Linked DNA regions of Homo sapiens: region 1 is linked to region 2. A link means that fine-mapping ties the variant in region 2 to the expression of a gene that starts in the linked region. Tissue or cell type: prefrontal cortex. Region 2 holds a variant in brackets; the other region holds the start of a gene. All regions are shown on one strand. Distances are from middle to middle.

The links. PIP is the estimated chance that this variant, and not a neighbour inherited with it, causes the effect. A credible set is the group of variants that fine-mapping cannot tell apart.
Region 1: LINC03071 starts here. The variant in region 2 is the best candidate, but not a certain one, in a credible set for the expression of LINC03071 in prefrontal cortex (CommonMind, PIP 0.79).

Annotation. Positions count from the first base shown.
Region 1 is chr8:74,628,881-74,637,224 of GRCh38, reverse strand. LINC03071 (long intergenic non-protein coding RNA 3071) reads left to right here and starts at 3,893. Exons shown (of 7, transcript NR_183468.1): 1 at 3,893-3,990; 2 at 4,723-4,775; 3 at 8,343-8,344. All of the region lies in intron 2 of MIR2052HG (MIR2052 host gene), which reads right to left.
Region 2 is chr8:74,460,176-74,468,519 of GRCh38, reverse strand. It overlaps a transcript of GDAP1 not described here. Among named protein-coding and RNA genes, the nearest start is that of MIR5681A, 84 kb to the left of the region's middle. The variant TG/G (reference allele first, on the strand shown) is at 5,059.

The DNA of each region.
Region 1 (8,344 bases), 170 kb before region 2:
AGTCCTTCCATCTGGAAAATCTTCCATGCCTGCTCAGATCCTTCACATCTTCCTAGACCCAGTTTAATAAGTTTCCTCTTCTATGAAACCTTTCTGAATTTCTCCTACTCTCCACAAAATGAATCCTTTCTTCCTTTCTATTCTCAATGAAATATGTGTATCACTGTATTCAGATTGCCTTATATTTGCTTTTGATGTGCCTAATGACCCCATTATATTATGAGTTCTTTATTAAAGATAATCCCAAAGAGCCCTGCCACCCAAAGTGTGGTCCCTCTACCAACATAGCTGTGAGCATATTAGAAATGCAGACCTTCAGGTCCCAACCCAGACTTCAGAATCTGCATCATAATATACCTCCAGTTCATTTTTATCACAATAAATTCTGAAAAGTGGTGCCATAGAGTATCTAGCATGTTAACACATAAAAGGTATTTTGTATAGGCTTGCTTGATGGATGGAAAGGGCATGAAAAATCAGGGAGAGGCATTTAATGTGCTGCTCTCAGTGTGCCAATGTGGTCTGGGAATTTATCTCAGGGTATACGATAGGTAGCATGGACAATATATTAAATTTATGGACCACAAAACACCACTAAGAGCCATAAAATGGTGAAAGACACTGATGAAAACCCAGAGTTTTTGGCAGAGAATATCATAAAGTATTCTGAAATTTGAAGATCTTTTTAAAAATCACTCTAACTTGACCTATCTTGGATTCGCGCTTTGAGCTATTACACTGCATTCAAATATTTGTTTTCATTCCTGCATATTTTCTTCTCCCTCTCCTTCCTGCATAAATTTATATATGGAACTTAGTTAACTCAGACTGCCAGCTGGTAAAACTGTTTTCCGAGAAAAAATGTAAAAGCATCCTAAATTCAAGGACAAAAATTTGCAGAATTGGTGGATTATTGGAGCACCACACAGTGATAAATACATTAAAGGCTATCATCCCAGCAGGACTTGGAACAAGGTAAAGTCTACAGAAAGGTAAGTAAAGAACAGGTCAACTTCTGAACCTTCTGGATCCCCCTCTAGAAGAAACAAAATGAAATTACTCCAATTATTTTCGGACACTGAGGCCAAGCGTGGCTTACTAAGTTCTAAAATGGTGTCTCACCCCTCATGGAAAGAAAAAAGAACTGAAATAGAGGCAACTGAGGACATCTTGGAGGACAAGACATGAGCCAGGAAGGGGGCCTGACACAGAAACAGAGATAAGGAAAGAAATGATGAGTTTGTTTGCTCTTTCTGTGAAAGTTTTAATTCCCACATTTCCATTACTTAATATGTCATTATTTTACTTTTCAGAAATTGGCAAACCAAAAGCATTCCACCATTTATTTTAAAACTTGTAGTCAACACACATCAGACTTTTATATTGCCTCAAATAAAAATTCTCTAAAGAATCAAATCTAAAGCTGTGCTATAAATTTCCCTGGGGAAGTTAATCCTAAAGTTCTTAGACATCAATATATGCTCCTGACCAAAGGTTGGATTTCAGAGGTCATGATGACATAGATTGATAAAATCCTGCTGCGTAATCCAGCCACGAATTACGTGTTGACATTGATAAGCAACATTTTTCATTGCCTATTAAATAAAGGTCAAATTCTTCAGCCTGGCATTAAAGATGACCCCAGTTTGAATTTCGAACTTTATTTCCCTCGACTCTAGCCAAGTGGAACAAATTGTGTTCTGTGCATGTCCTTTAATTTATTGTCTTTATGGTTTTGCTTACAGCTCCTTTCACTTGTAATTCTCTTTCTTTCTATATCTGTGGATCCCAAACTTATCCAGTAATTAAGGACCAGTGCAAATGACATCTCCATTGGGCCTCCAAATACCCAAAGAGCTGAAAATGTACTCTTTCAAATATCTCCTAGACACCTGACAAACTTCATCTCATGTTATATTTATTTATGTATGTTTAATGCAATTCACTAGAGGTAAACCTTCCTGACGGTAAAAAAAAAAAAAAATCTGTTTTTGTGCTTTCTGTACCTAATATAGTGATTTGCACATAATAGGTACCCATAAATATTTCATAATTCTACAATTGTGGAACTGTTATAAGTATTCAGTCAAATGAGACCATAATACCCTTTTGGTATGCTGTTCTCCCTTTTTCTCACATTTCCATTCACCCCCAACCCCCCAAATTTCTCTAAAATCCTAATAAGTCATTTTCACTGTAACTTACCTTGTTCTTCATGGAATTATTAGATAAAAATTAGACTAATGAATATACATTTTCCTTCTTTTGAATAAAAATAAGCCATATTCCTGACATAATGTCCATATCTGACATTCAATAAATAATTGAGGAAAGAGTGGATCAATTAATCAATCAATCAATTGCCCTGCCAAAATCTCAGTGAATCTAGCATGACTAGCATAAAGCTATGGACCCCTCAGATTTCGTTGTCCGTTTCTGTCTTGCGATACCTATGAAGTAGTGGTAGATGTCTCCTGATTGTATACAGTGGTCTTATAAATTGAATAAGAGCAGTGTATTAACAGATTACATGATGTTGCTTCCTTAAAGATAATGTCTTTACTCACTCATGGTAACAAAAGTGTAATTTTGACTATATTAAGCCATATAAGTCCCCAAGGGGACTCATCCCAAGATTAAGCACTGAGTAAATATTACAATAATTGCTGCTGCTACTTGAAAACGATAGTAAAACTCAAAAAAAAATTTAAGGTGAAAATGTATTAAGAATGTATTAAGAAATTATTTTGCAAGAGTTCTAAATTATGACAGCTTATAAGTAAAGATACAGGTGACGGGTTATAATCTGTCAAATACTACATGATGTCAGCAACAAGTTTCTCCTGCCTTTGGCCCGACTATTTGGGCATAGGTTGTCTATGTAAACCTCTGCCTTGTTGTCTCTGCCTCAATTAATAGCTTACTAATACACTGGTAATCTGGTCTTTCTAATTCTGGGAACTGGCAAGTCTTTTCAATCCCTTTCTCCAACCTAAACTGAAATCTCTTTCCTGAATGCCTGTTCTAAGTATTGCTAGTTCCTGAATTCTCCAATAGCATGCCCTCCCTACATTTCAGGAAGCCTAAATCTGAAGAGCAAGCATGCTTTCTACAAGTGTTAGAATAGATAGTAAAATGAGAATCAAGCCTCTCCACCTTACTGAAATAACTTAATGTCCTCCTCCTCCTCCATTAGGCTCCCAGATATTTGAGGAAAGAAACTATTAATTTAACTTTCATTCTCCCTCTTAAAAGAGGCTCGGTACATCTAATGTGCCCAGTGATTGTTGAATAAGCCAATGAAAGACTGCATTAACCAACTTAGAAATGTACAAACCATTCTTAAGTTTACAGAGCATTATATCTCCATTATGTTCTTCATCCTTGTAGTAGTCAAAGGCTCATAGTTACATCTCTGAATGTCTTTATAACCAGCCAATTGCATACCAATACATCTATCAGGACAATCAACAATATAAGCCTAGAACTAAGTTACTATCTTTAGCGTACTCAGCATCAATGCTGAGTGCAGCCCCAATGAACAGTACACATGCAAACAAATACCTAAACAGATGTAACAGAACTAGTAGTACATTGAGCCTAGGAAACGCATAACAAGTACAACTCATGCAAGTGACATGACAATGCTAGAAATCAATCTCTGCCGTCATTTAGCAAGGTAAGATGGCATTCTGAGGAGGAGCCTTGTGATTAGGGAATGGGAATAAGCCAGAACAACAGCAACAACAAAAGTAGCTTGTGAGTACCTGGTACCAGAGTGCTGACTTTTTCTTACTTGTGCCTGACAAGTCATAATGCCTAAGAACTACCACCAGGGGTGTCACAATGGAGAGTAACGTACACTAGAAGCACCTAATGAGGAATTAAGAGTGGGATGTGTGCTGGAAAGGGTTCACACATATAATCCCAGCACTTTGGGAGGCTGAGGTAGGAAGATCGCTGGAACCCAGGAGTTCAAGACCATCCTGGGTAATATGAAGAGACCCTGTCTCTACAAAAAAACAAAAAAGAAAACCATTAGCCAGGGGTGGTGGCACATGCCTGTGGTCCCAGCTACTCAGAAAACTGAGGTGGGAGGACTGCTTGAGCTTGGGAGGTTGAGGCTGCAGTGAGCCATGATCAAGCCACTGTACTACAGTCTGGGCAACAAAGCAAGACCCTGTCTCAAAACAAACAAACAAACAAACAAATAAAAGAGTAGGATATATCATATAGTCATGGGAGAGGAATTATCAAAGTTGAGTCCTGAAGGTTGAACCAGACTAGTGAGGAGTGGTGAGATGAGAGCCAGAAAACAGAGACAGCCTGGGAGTCATTGGCTATATCATAAAACAGAGACTATTATAAAAACAGTGAGGTAGGGGTCCGATCAACACGAGCTGATTATGCCAAGATAAGAAGTTTGTCTTCAGAGAAAAGAGCCATGTATAATATTTCTTCCAGTTCCCATGATAATTATCTCACCCAGGGAAATGGGGAAAGGCTAGCACTGGCAACCTAAATATTCAGAATTACATACAGAATATTGGTGAAGGATAACATTAAAGTCATACCAAATATATTTACATTTAGATGTTGTATGTGTTTTACTTTCAAATATGCAGCAAATTATAATTTTTAAGCCTGAAGTTTAAAATGCTTTTATTTCCAGAATTAATATAACTTTTTTCTCCCTAAGTAAGTTTTTTTTTCAATCCCTAGGTAAGATAACAGCACCTCAGAGAAGATTTGGAAAATAAATGAGCTGATGAGAGGTAAGTATAGCACTCAGGGAGAGACACGGGCCAAGCAGGCTCTCCCCTGAAAGAAACTGCGGGGCCACTATAGGATAATAAGCCCCAATCACAAACGCAGGCTCTGGTGGCCACACATCCTGCTGGTGGCACCCTGAGACCAAACTTGCTCCTCTGGATCTCCCTGGCGAGAGTCTTGGAGAAACCTGTGCAGTCATGCTGTGGTCCAGGAGAAGCCACTATCAATACGTCCTCCGACAGCCACAGTCAGCTCAAGGGGAGGGATGCCCAGATCATAAGGATCGCCTGCAAAGGAGCAATGAGTGGAAAAATGGCCTCATAGAGGTGTTGTGATGTCTAAGCTAGAGGGCTCTCATCCTCTTCAGCTTCTCTTGCTGAGTATGCTTGATATACTCCTAAGTAAAATAAGGAGGCTGCTATGGTCTAAATGTTTGTGTCCCTCCAAATTTATATGTTGAAACTGAACCCTTAATGCAATAGTGTTAAGAGGTGGGATCTTTGGGGAAATTATTAAATCATGAGGGCCTCATGAATGAGATTTGTGCCCATATAAAAGAAGGTGAAGGGAGCATGTTTGTCCTTTTCACCATGTGAAGACACAGCATTTGCCCCTTCTGCCATGTGAGGATGCAGCAAGTAGGCACCATCTCTGAAGCACAGCAAGTCCTCACCAGACACTGAATCTGCTGGTGCCTTGACCTTGGACTCCCCATCCTCCAAAAATACAGGAAATAAATTTCTGTCATTGATAAATTACCCAGTCTAAGGCATTTTTGTTATAGCAGCCCAAACTAAGACAGAGGGTTTTTGAGAAGTTATTACTACTGGTCCAAAATCTTTCTACCAATTCACAGAAACCATCACATCAACAGCTGTTGAAGTACCTTAAACAGGTAAATATATGATTAGGTAATTATATTAAACCTCTATGTCATAAAAGGTAGAAGAATCTTAAATGTTTAAGAATCAAAAAAGTAGAAATATGCCTCTCAATTTCAAGTCAAAAGAATAAAAAACAAATCAAGTAACTCTCAAAGCTTTCAGAAAAAAGGATAGAACTAATTATTCAAATACACCAAACATTGTTTTCTATTTATTCTTCTATACCAGAAACCATTGCTGCTATAACTAGCAATAATCTCTTAAGATTTGTTGTTGGAAAAGATGCAGATGTATATTTAATTTCCCTCCTACTCCACAGATAACCAAATGAGGAGTCTGGCTGTCACAGGGACTATCTAGCCCGCCAGGCCAAAAGGCCTGTGTTTATTGTTAGAGTGGCCTGAATGAGGTGGGCATAGACTCTGAGCAGTATACCTTACATGATAATTGCTCTATCCTCAAACTACTCTAATACGAAAAAGTTTCTTTTTTATTACCAACCATAACTCAGAGAAACCCTATCATCCCTAAAATCTTGGATATGTGGAAAATGGAGAACGATATTTGCCTTTAAGTACACATAATTACATTTAAGCATAGATGAGAGCACATGCCACTCAATAAATATATGAAGCTGGGCAAATTATTGAATCTCTGAGCTCTCGTTTCCTCATTTTTACAAAGAAGATAGCAAGTCAGTCTGAGGATCAAATGAAGTAGGCTACAGGAAACAACTTGCATAGTAGCTGAGGTGTCAGAGGCACTAAATGGTAGCTCCTTAACACTTTCCACTCTTCTTGTTGTGAATTGTTAATGTAGAGCAAACTAGAACAAATGGCTAAGGAGATGTAGTTGCTATGTTATGCCATCCGTAGCTCACTGCCAGGAATGTCCAGCCAGTGTTTTGTCCTTCAGTTTCCAGAGAACTTGTTTCTGAAGCTCAGTCGAATGTTTTTTGCTAGCTATCTATCCCTAGAGAGTTCCTTATCATCAAAGTTTTTTAAGCTGGATTGCCCTTTTTTCTTTTTTTTTTTTTTTTCAGAGAAATCTTTTTGCACTTTTGTCCTTTTTCTGAAGATTCTTTCCTCTTTCTGGAGTAAAAGGCTTGCCAAGATAGCCCTCTTAACCATTTCCTCTTGGCTCTTTACCTTCTCTGTGCTTGGACAGAAAAATGGACATTTGCAAATATTAGGACACCCTTCCAAGCCTGACTTGTCTCTTGCCCCAATATCCAGAAAGAGCAGCAGCCCACTGCCTGGGAGAGAAGAGGGAAACTTCATTTTCAGTCCATTGATTAAATATGTCAGATTTTCTCTCTTGGAAACAATGGGTAAGGAGGGGAGTATTCTTGGGAGTCTATTTTGAGCTGAACAAAAATAACTGTTTTGATTTAGGAAAAAAAATGTGTTTAGCATTATTATCAGATACAACCAGCACATTTTCACTTGTTTTTCATTCTGAACAGACCTGAACTTCCACTATGACATAAATTCATTGTCCTAGCTTTTGAACATGCCTTCGAACAACTCTTTTCTGTGCCTGTAATTATGTTTTCTCCTTCTTCAGTCAGAGAATTCCTAGTATATTTATCCATTCAACAAACATTTATTTGGAGAAAGCCTGGCTGGATGCATGGGTGAGGGAGTCATGAGGACATCAGAAGGTGGTGCTGAGTTGCAGCAGAGGAGAGTGGACTTTGCTTAGAGAGAAATAACAGTTGTGAGCACAGGGCTAAGGATGTTGCTGGGGAAACATCCCTATTCAAGCTTTGTCAAAGAGGAGTGACCATTGATATATTTATTATTCATCTCCCAGTCACTCTTGTGGTTGGCCAACGCTGTTTTGGTGCACCACTCAGATACCTTGTACTGGGCCAATGCACCACCCCCAGCTTCTGTGAGTGTTGGCTGCAAAAGGCTTCCAGTAGCTCCCCTTCTCCAAAGAATTGCCCTCAGCTGACAGGAGTAAGCTCTCTGAAAGTTAAGTACCTATGCTCTCAAGGAGAGCCCTGAAGCCTATGACTAACACTATACTGGAATGCAAAAGGCTGGCCCCTTGCTGTTTCCTCTTTTCATACCTTCCTTTTACTCTTCCATCCTCCTAGACCACTTCCAACACTCCCCCACCCTAGGCATCACCTACTGTAGAAAACCATCCTGAAAGTAATTATCTGCAACCTGGCTAAGTGCCCCTCTCTGCTTGTTTCAATCACTTTGAAAGTTCTAATGTCAAAAATACTTCCTGGCTCTTAACGTTTGGCTTCAATAAATATTTGCTGAGTCAGGGAATAAAGGAATGAGTAAACTGCTATGAAAGTGCTCATTTAATATATTTAACAGTTTACCGTGGCCTAACAGCATAGAGCCTCTGTCATCAAATAAGTTGCTTGCCAAAAACTTAAACTTGTTAAAAACGTTTATGTGATATTTTAATGAAAGAGTATGCTAGGCAGTAAATTAGTTTCATGAGCAAATCTGTGTGAAAGCAACCAACACACTGGCTGACATAAGAGGAACTCAAAAAGTCCTCGTTCAATAAAACAGTGAACTGGAGGGGGATTTTCCTTTAAAAAGCCTTCACAATTTTTTTCAAGTAAAATGCTCTCTCCCATCAGACTACTGGAAAACCATGGAGCTCCTGTCTATGCCATCAAACAAGATACCAATTTTTTTTTTCTTTTTCCAGCA
Region 2 (8,344 bases):
TGTGTGTGTGTGTGTGTGTGTGTGTGTGTGTGTGTGTGTGTATGGGGTCATTTACATATATATGTAAATAATAAATGTAGCAAGAAATTTATTAAATCAATGGAATAATGCACCTTTAAGGGGCACAGATGGACAGGTCTTGAAGAGAAAGTCTCCAAATCACAAAGATGTTTTTATTATTTTTACTTAATGTATATATGAAATACAACAATTAAAAATACTAATAGTTTTTTATAGATAAGCAGATTCCAAAGTATATGGAAAAATATACATATAGGTGAGAAACCACTGAAAAAGAAGAGTAATGAAGATGAATTAGCCCAACAAATACTGAAACATATTAAAACACCACCGTAATTTAAAGAGTATGGTGCTTGTATGTAAATAACAGACCAAAAAAAAATAGAACAGTAAGTCCACAGGTAGGCCCAAATAATTATGTAATTTTAATTTATGACAAAACATTATCACAAACCAGTGGTAAAAAGATAAACTATTCAACAGATGATTTTAAGACAACTAGGTATGCATCTGAAAAAAAAAATCAGGTTATATCAATATCTCAAATCATGTTCTAAGAAAATTGTCCAAGAGATGAAATAATTAAATATAAAAAAATGAAACTCTCAAAGTAACAGAAGAAAACATAGAAAAATTATTTTACGGTATGTGTGTGTATAGGGCCTAAGAACAACTCAGAATGCCAGAGATCATAAAAGCAAATACTGGTGAATGTAAATGATCAGTCCAGCCCCCGGGTTCTACAGTTCCTTGACCTCCCCTCCTCCCACTATCTTGTTTAACACCCTGCTTTGGCTATTCACTCCATAGGTACCTCCACCTTGTAATTTCCAATAATTACAACCTCTGTATAATCTCAATTCCAAGAACCTACTCTCTGTGCTGCAGTGAACCTAGCAGCTTTATTGTAACCATCCTTGGAACCCTCCAGGCCCTACTGATTGCACTGCCTGTTCATTGACTCTTGCCTCTCATATCTTCACTGAACTTACCCACTTAAAATCTAGGATCAATCATTATACTCTCTCTCTCAAATAAGCCCTCAAACCCCTTGCCCTCTCTTTCTTCATCACACTTTGAACTTATGTCACAGTGGTTAAATCTAGCTGCTTATCTGTTCCACACTTGAACCAGGGAAGCTGAACCTGGCTCAGAAACCATTTAACCATGCTAAGTGTTCTCACTTTAATTCATGACTCATGATCACTAAGCTCCAGTAAGCAATGATGCTCGCCAATGATATGATTAACCTATTCCATTTGATCTTCCACTCTCTAAGACAGCTATTCTATCCCTTCTCCTTTCTCCTCAAACTTCCAACTCCTTCTCTACTGCTGTCCCTCTCAGCTGATGGCTTTGCTTCTATTTCACTGAGAAGACAGAAACAATAAAAAGAGAACTTTGATAATCTTCATATATAAATACCTACCTTCATTAATCCCCATATCCTCTACTCTTTTCCCTATTCCTATGTATAAGCTGTCTGTGTTCCTAATGCCAGCCCTTAACTAGGGCTATGGATTAGAGTCCGTGATTCCTTATTGAGTAATTCTTCCCTTTCAGCAGCAGCATCTATTCCCCTCTATCTGAGTCTCTCCCAGCAGTGCATAAATCTGCTGTCATTTGTCTTGAATATCTCCTCTCTATAGCCAACTCCCTTGGAGATGTCACTCAGTCTCCTGCCTGCAAATACATAGTGATGATTCACAAATGTACGTATCTCTAGATCAGAACTCTCACCTGCACACCAGACCCTGGCTTCCTATTTAACGTTTTTACTTGGATATCTAATCAGCGCCTTCAAATTTAACATGTAAAAACTGTTCCTATTTTTCCCCTACCCCTATTAAAATTGTTAGTCTATCCTTCCAGTTATCAAACCAATAAATTCAGAGTTATCCTTGATCTGTCCTCCACAACTGTAATCCAATCTATCAGCGAATCTTGCAAGCTCTATCTTCAACATATCTATGCAGCACTCCTTCTCATTGCCCAACTATTACCACTCCAGTCTAGGCCACCATTAGCTCTCACCATTGGCTCTCAATTACTGTGGTAGCCTGTTAACTGATCTTCACACATCTACCTTCGTCCTCTTCAGTTTTTTTCTCCACAAAGCCAAAGTAAATCTGTTAAAATCTAACTCAAATCAGATCACGTTTCCCTAAAACCCTCCAAAGCTATGGTTCCCAAACTGTGTTCCAAGGAACCCTGGGGCCCTGCAGTGAACTCCCTGGGGTGCTTTGAGATGTCTTAAATTTTTCAGAGAGAAATCCAGAGATACTCAATATCCTTTGGATACAAGGTGAGCTAGATCACACTACATTTTTTTATGAAGTCATATCTTTGCAAAGCATATTTTAAGCATGATTTAAGCATATTTTGCTCTGATAAAAAGCACGTCCCTCTGAAAAGAAACAATGTGGAACAGAAAATGAGTATGGCAGTATCCAATCTGATTCCAAAGTTTGAGAGTCTGCGCTATAAGCAAGGGATGCAGACATCATATTAATAAATGTGATTAGTTAAGAATGAAATTAAAATGTTCTTCAATTTATGTGTTTTTTAAAAATAGCTAATAAGTTGTTAGGACAAATAAATACCAAGTTCTCTGCTCATAACTATTTAATAAATAACACTGCTAGGTCTCTCTTTTGGCCTAGAAGTATGATGAAAAATTCCAGATTAAGTGGCCCTAAATTGATTAAAAAAAAAAAAAAACTTGGTGTGATTAAAGAACTGAAAATTATCAGTGTGCCTGAAGCAGGGAAGAGTGACTGACAAGCAGTTTGGAGAGGGAGCCAGGGCCAGATCTTGCAGAACAGCAGAGCATCAGAAGCCATAGTGGGGAATTTTAATGCTATGCTAAGAGCAATTGGAGGCTTGAGGTTATTTTAAGCAGATGAGTAATTTGACCAGACTTACAATTTTAAATGATCAAGCTGCTCGATGGAGACTGTGTTGGGGAAAGATGAGAAGGAGAAGTGGAGAACCTATCAGGCTATCATCTAGTCCAGAGAACTTGGTGGCTTGAACTCTGTGGGGCAGTGGAGGTGGAAGGGAAGGGAGACCAGCAGTACTTTGTAGGTAAAATTTATAAGGCTTGGCGAGAGATTGCATGAAAGGGGTAAGGGAAGCAGGTGTATCAAGAATGACTCCTAAACTTCTGGCTTGAGCAAGTGGGTGCGCCTACCTGAAATAAAGATAGGGAGGAACTAGTTTCAGGCAGAATAGCACGGCTTAGGTTTATTTTTTTTTATTTTTATTTATTTATTTTTGGAGAGGAGTCTCGCTCTGTCACCCAGGCTGGAGTGCAAGTGGTGCTATCTCAGCTCACTGCAACCTCCGTCTCCCGGGTTTAAGCAATTCTCCTGCCTCAGCCTCCCAAGTAACTGGGACTACAGGAGCACGCTACCACGCCCAGCTAACTTGTTGTATTTTAGTAGAGGTGGGCTTTCACCATGTTGCCCAGGCTGGTCTCGAACTCCTGAGCTCAAGCAATCTACCCGCCTTGGCCTCCCAAAGTGCTAGGATTACAGGCATGAGCCACCATGCCTGGCCGACAGCTTAAGTTTAGATGTTTTAAATTTAAGATACTTATTTACAATTAAATTTAAAAGGTGATATCTTAAATTGTAAGTATCTTGGAAGATACTTACAATTTAAGATGACAGTAGGCAGGTATTTAGGTTTGAATATGAAATTAATATCCCTTTCCCTAAATATGGCATGACTGTCCATTCCCCCTCAGTCTTTGTCTGACGGAGTTATTCTTATCTCTAGCAATACTCTTAGCATATACAATCACATCCAGGCCCAACTCAAAGGCATCCTGCCAAGACAGCATATTAGGGGCTCCATCTGGAAGTGTGCACAAAATGTAGTATGCTGTTATAAAACCAGCATTCAGGGTGTCTAGATGGACGCAGGGACAACCATATGTTTTTCAGTTTCCACACTATTCCTTGAAAACAAACTTGCTTCATTGGGCTTTTGCCAGCCAGCCTTCCTAGCCCCTTCCAATTGCTCCTCCCTTAGGGTTGCACATTGTTCTTATTTCAATTGCTGTTGCTTAGGGTCTTACAGAAAACCAAGCAAACCACTAAAATATGACCCTGTTCCCCACTGACTTTGAATTTTACTGCAGCCTGGATCCCTCTGCTATAATGCTACAACTTATCAAGTCACCATGAATTGAAGTAGCTTAAATTAACCCGGAATTTGACACTCCCCTATTGGCACTGTATTTTGGACTGTCTGCCAACTATGAGTGCCAGTTTTTTCTACTTTGACTAATCATTCCACACTTTGGGGTTCTAGCATGCCTCACCCAAACCTGTTTTGTTGATAAAAGTCTCCATGTCTTTTCTCTTTCCTTCTGGAAACCCAGATTTGTCCTTTAAAATCCCACTCAGGCACCAGCAGCACCTTCATTTATTCTCTCTTGGGATGGTATTGTTAAACATATTAGAACTAAATATTTCCTCCACATTTCCTTTAGTTGTTTCATAGCATTTCTCTTGATATAGCAGGTACATACGTATTTATGGATTTTTTCCCTTTATGCTAGATATTTCAGTAATTTGGCCTCTACTAAATAAATCCCGCCATCATGTAGTCATTTGTATTGATTTGTGCTTATATACAGCCAACTCTATTTGCATAAATGACTACAATACACAGAAGTTTTGATTACTATTACAATTACTGAATTGCTTTCTTGTAATTGTGGTAGTAACCATTTTAAGGTTGATATTCCAATTTCTACATATGTTTAGTTTCTCTACCTATGTCTTACTTATTTCTATTAAATTAGACAGTTTCTCTCCAAAGCTACATATGTCTTACACTTATTTCTATTAAATTAGATGTGTGCTTATTAGACAGTTTAATAAAGCAGAGGAACAACCTCTGCTTTATTAAAACTTTCCATAGCAGAATGCACTTTCCTGCAGCAAGAATCCTTTGATCCACTTTGGACACATTCCAGCATATTGTGTAGCACCTCTGTTAAAATACTATTTTTGTTTTTTTTTT[TG/G]AGACAGGGTCTCGCTCTGTCACCCAAGCTGGAGTGCAGTGGTGTAATCATAGCTCACCGCAGCCTAGAACTCCCGGGCTCAAGCAGCAATCCTCATATATCACCCTTCTGAGTAGCTGGGACCACAAGTGCACAATACCACATCCCGCTAATTTATTTTTTTATTTTTTTAATACATATGGGGTCTCCCTATGTTCCTAAGGCTGGTCTCAAATTCCTAGGCTCAAGCAATCCTTCTACCATGGCCTCCCAAAGTGCTGGGATTATAGGCATAAGCCACCACACCTATCCTAAAATATTCTTGAAGTCATGCTTACTGTGCTACATCAATTTGTTTCAGCCCACAACTGAGGATCAATCTTAGAAATGTTATTTACTCATTTGCCGTAACTTATTGCCTTAATTACATATCACTTGCAATGTCATCCACCCTAAAGCTAAGCTTTCATGTACTGTCTGGTTCTTAGTTTATCAGAACACATTAATATCTATAAACTTTTCCCTTTGCACTTGATCTTTTAATAATTTGATCTCTTCTGAATGAAACAATTCATCAGGTTTTGTATTTGTATTGATTTCAACTTACGTCCTTGTCACTTCATCACTCAAATGCTTTCTAATCTACTAGATTCTTAAAGGCTTGTTTAAATGCTGGCATATCTTTTGAAATCATTCAAGTATAAAAAAAATTCTAGGATTCTCATTCCCAATTTTTGTTTTACCCTCTTCTTAGTGGTTTCTGTGTCAAACAGAAGCAAGAAGGATTAAGTTCCTTAAATTATTCCTAATTTCTATTCATTTTTCTAAAGAATATGTTAGTAACTCCTACAGGTCTCAATGTCTTGAAGTATTGACAGTTGATCATTAATGTCTATTTGGTAGGTACCATTTCTTCCCTACAGTGTATTTTTATAAAATTGCTTGCTTCTGCCCAATAGTCTCTAACTTACCATCAGCTGGAATGAACGATTTTTACCCTGTTCAACTCTACATGTCCCAAGGCACTAAGGAAAATAGGCTCTTCAAATGAAAACAGCTCAGACAATATTTGTTGAATTAAGTCATTAGATGTATTGAAGGAAATGCTCACAGGCCCAAGTCTCTTAAATTAATGCGAATAGCTCTTCTGTGGTAGCTCTCTGGTCCCTAAATTGATCTATTTTCTTAGTTTTCTATTATAGCTCCACTTAGAACACACAATCAATAAAAAATAAGTAGCCCAGCCCAGCCAGGAAGTACTTGACAAAAAATTAACTCTAGGCAAACAGAACTCAAGGAGTCACTATATATAGTTAAAATCACCTAGCCATATTCTTAACTCTTTTAAATCTTTATGTGTTAAAATAATAAAGTTTGTTTAGATACCATCTAACTGAAAGTTTGTTTTTATAAAATTCCATCTCTTAGTTCCATCTTTTTAAAAAAATTATTCAAGTTTTGATGTTTATTCTAAGACTCAGTGATACTATGATTTCATATACTTTTTATTGTTCATTTGCTGGAATAAAGAGAGGAAAATTTTATTCCTTAGGATGAAATGCTTTCTGCTGGAACAGAATTGTTTTTCTCATTCAAATCTTTCAGTGCTTTATGAGATTTAATGGCAATAAAATAGCTGCACCTGCATTTTTGTAGGAATGAAAAATACAAGTGAAACTGAACTGAGTTTGACCCATGGGGGTCAAACAGGAAAAATTCATTTGACACCATTAGCTTTGGGGTCCCATGTGAGCATGTAAAACACATTGTACTTCCCTGTCTGAGAGCATAATCAGAATCTATCCATACAATGCCAAACATGTGGAACATGAGCAACCCAATCAATTAGTCACCTAACATTTAGTCTGGATGATGCCAAACATCTGGATACTTGGAAATATCCAAATGAATGGGTGAACTTTTCACTTTTCTTCCGAATTTTTTTGGCAGCATATGAACACAGCCAAATGTGGGCACTTTGAATTGTGTTGTTATTTTTAGGCAACAGGTTCCAAAATCTCTTAAAAGACCTAGCTCCTCAATAGCCAAAGAAAATCTATTTACAATGCAGTCTTTCATGATTAATTTTGATAAAGAATTTATGTGTTAAAACTTACAATGGCAAAAATCAGGGTCATTAAATAATATGTATGTTTATTTAATAGGCTTTAGAGAGCAGAGCATTAATGTTCTGCTTTCCCGGGAAAGTATCTATATTAGGATAATCTGCTTAAGCTTATTATGTACCCCATTTTTAACTCAGCATGCTCCTGTGCCTATCCTCTAATCCTTTCCTTGCTGTCTCAGAGGTTTTTACAAGAGAAATGTGGGACAGATTTATGGCTAAGAGCAGAAAAATGAAGAGGGTAAGGGTGCAACGCCCAAAGGCCAAAGTGGGACAAAGCATTGGCAGTGGCCTCAGATGCAGACTGACATCCAAGTGCTGGCAGAAGATGTTCTGTAGGGAAAGCCCAAGAGGATAGAGAATACCCTCTCCCAATACAAGGACAAAGCCTTCAGGAATGTAGACCAACTCCAAGAAAGTGGGAAGAGAAAGCAAAAAGCCCAGGGTCTGTGACTGAACATTTTAACACTGCTATTCTAATTCTCTTCCTTTTTGTCTTCTCTTCTCCTCTTTCTCCTCCACCTGTTTATCTTCCTTCTCCTCCTCTCTCTCATTCTCTCTCTCTTTCTCTGTATATTCATGTCCCCAAACATAACAGGTCAACTCCACAAATAGAACCTTTTCTTAGGACCCTACCACTCTTCATAACCACCATTCCATAGCTCATTTCTTCCTGGATTAACTCCTCAGGCCCCTGCAGGAACTTCATTGCCTATCCACTGGGCCCTCCTTTACTCCCTGCAGGCCAGTTTCTGTTCCTGCTGTTCAGTATTAGATTTTCCATTAAGCTAAGGAAGCTTAAGCTTCAGGGGCCCTCCCATAAAGGAGTCTACTAGCTGAGGCCCTGGAAGTGGCCCTGGCAATGTGTTCACATAGACATATGTTTTAGTAAAATTGGCGACATGACATGAAGTTGCAGGGTCAGAAGTTGTATTGTAATAGAGCAACTGACACCAGAATTGTGTTGAAATGGAGGAGAATCAAGATTTGGAAGGTTCAGAGCCAGAAACTAATCAGTAGAAAGTTACAAATGGAACATTCCCTTCTCATTGATGCTTAGTCAAAATAAATTTCTCCTTTATCAACAAATGCTTGATCAACATGACACATACAATTTAAGGAACATTATGTATTTCTTCCTTTTAATGGAGATCATAATGAATGAAATTAATCAGAATCCC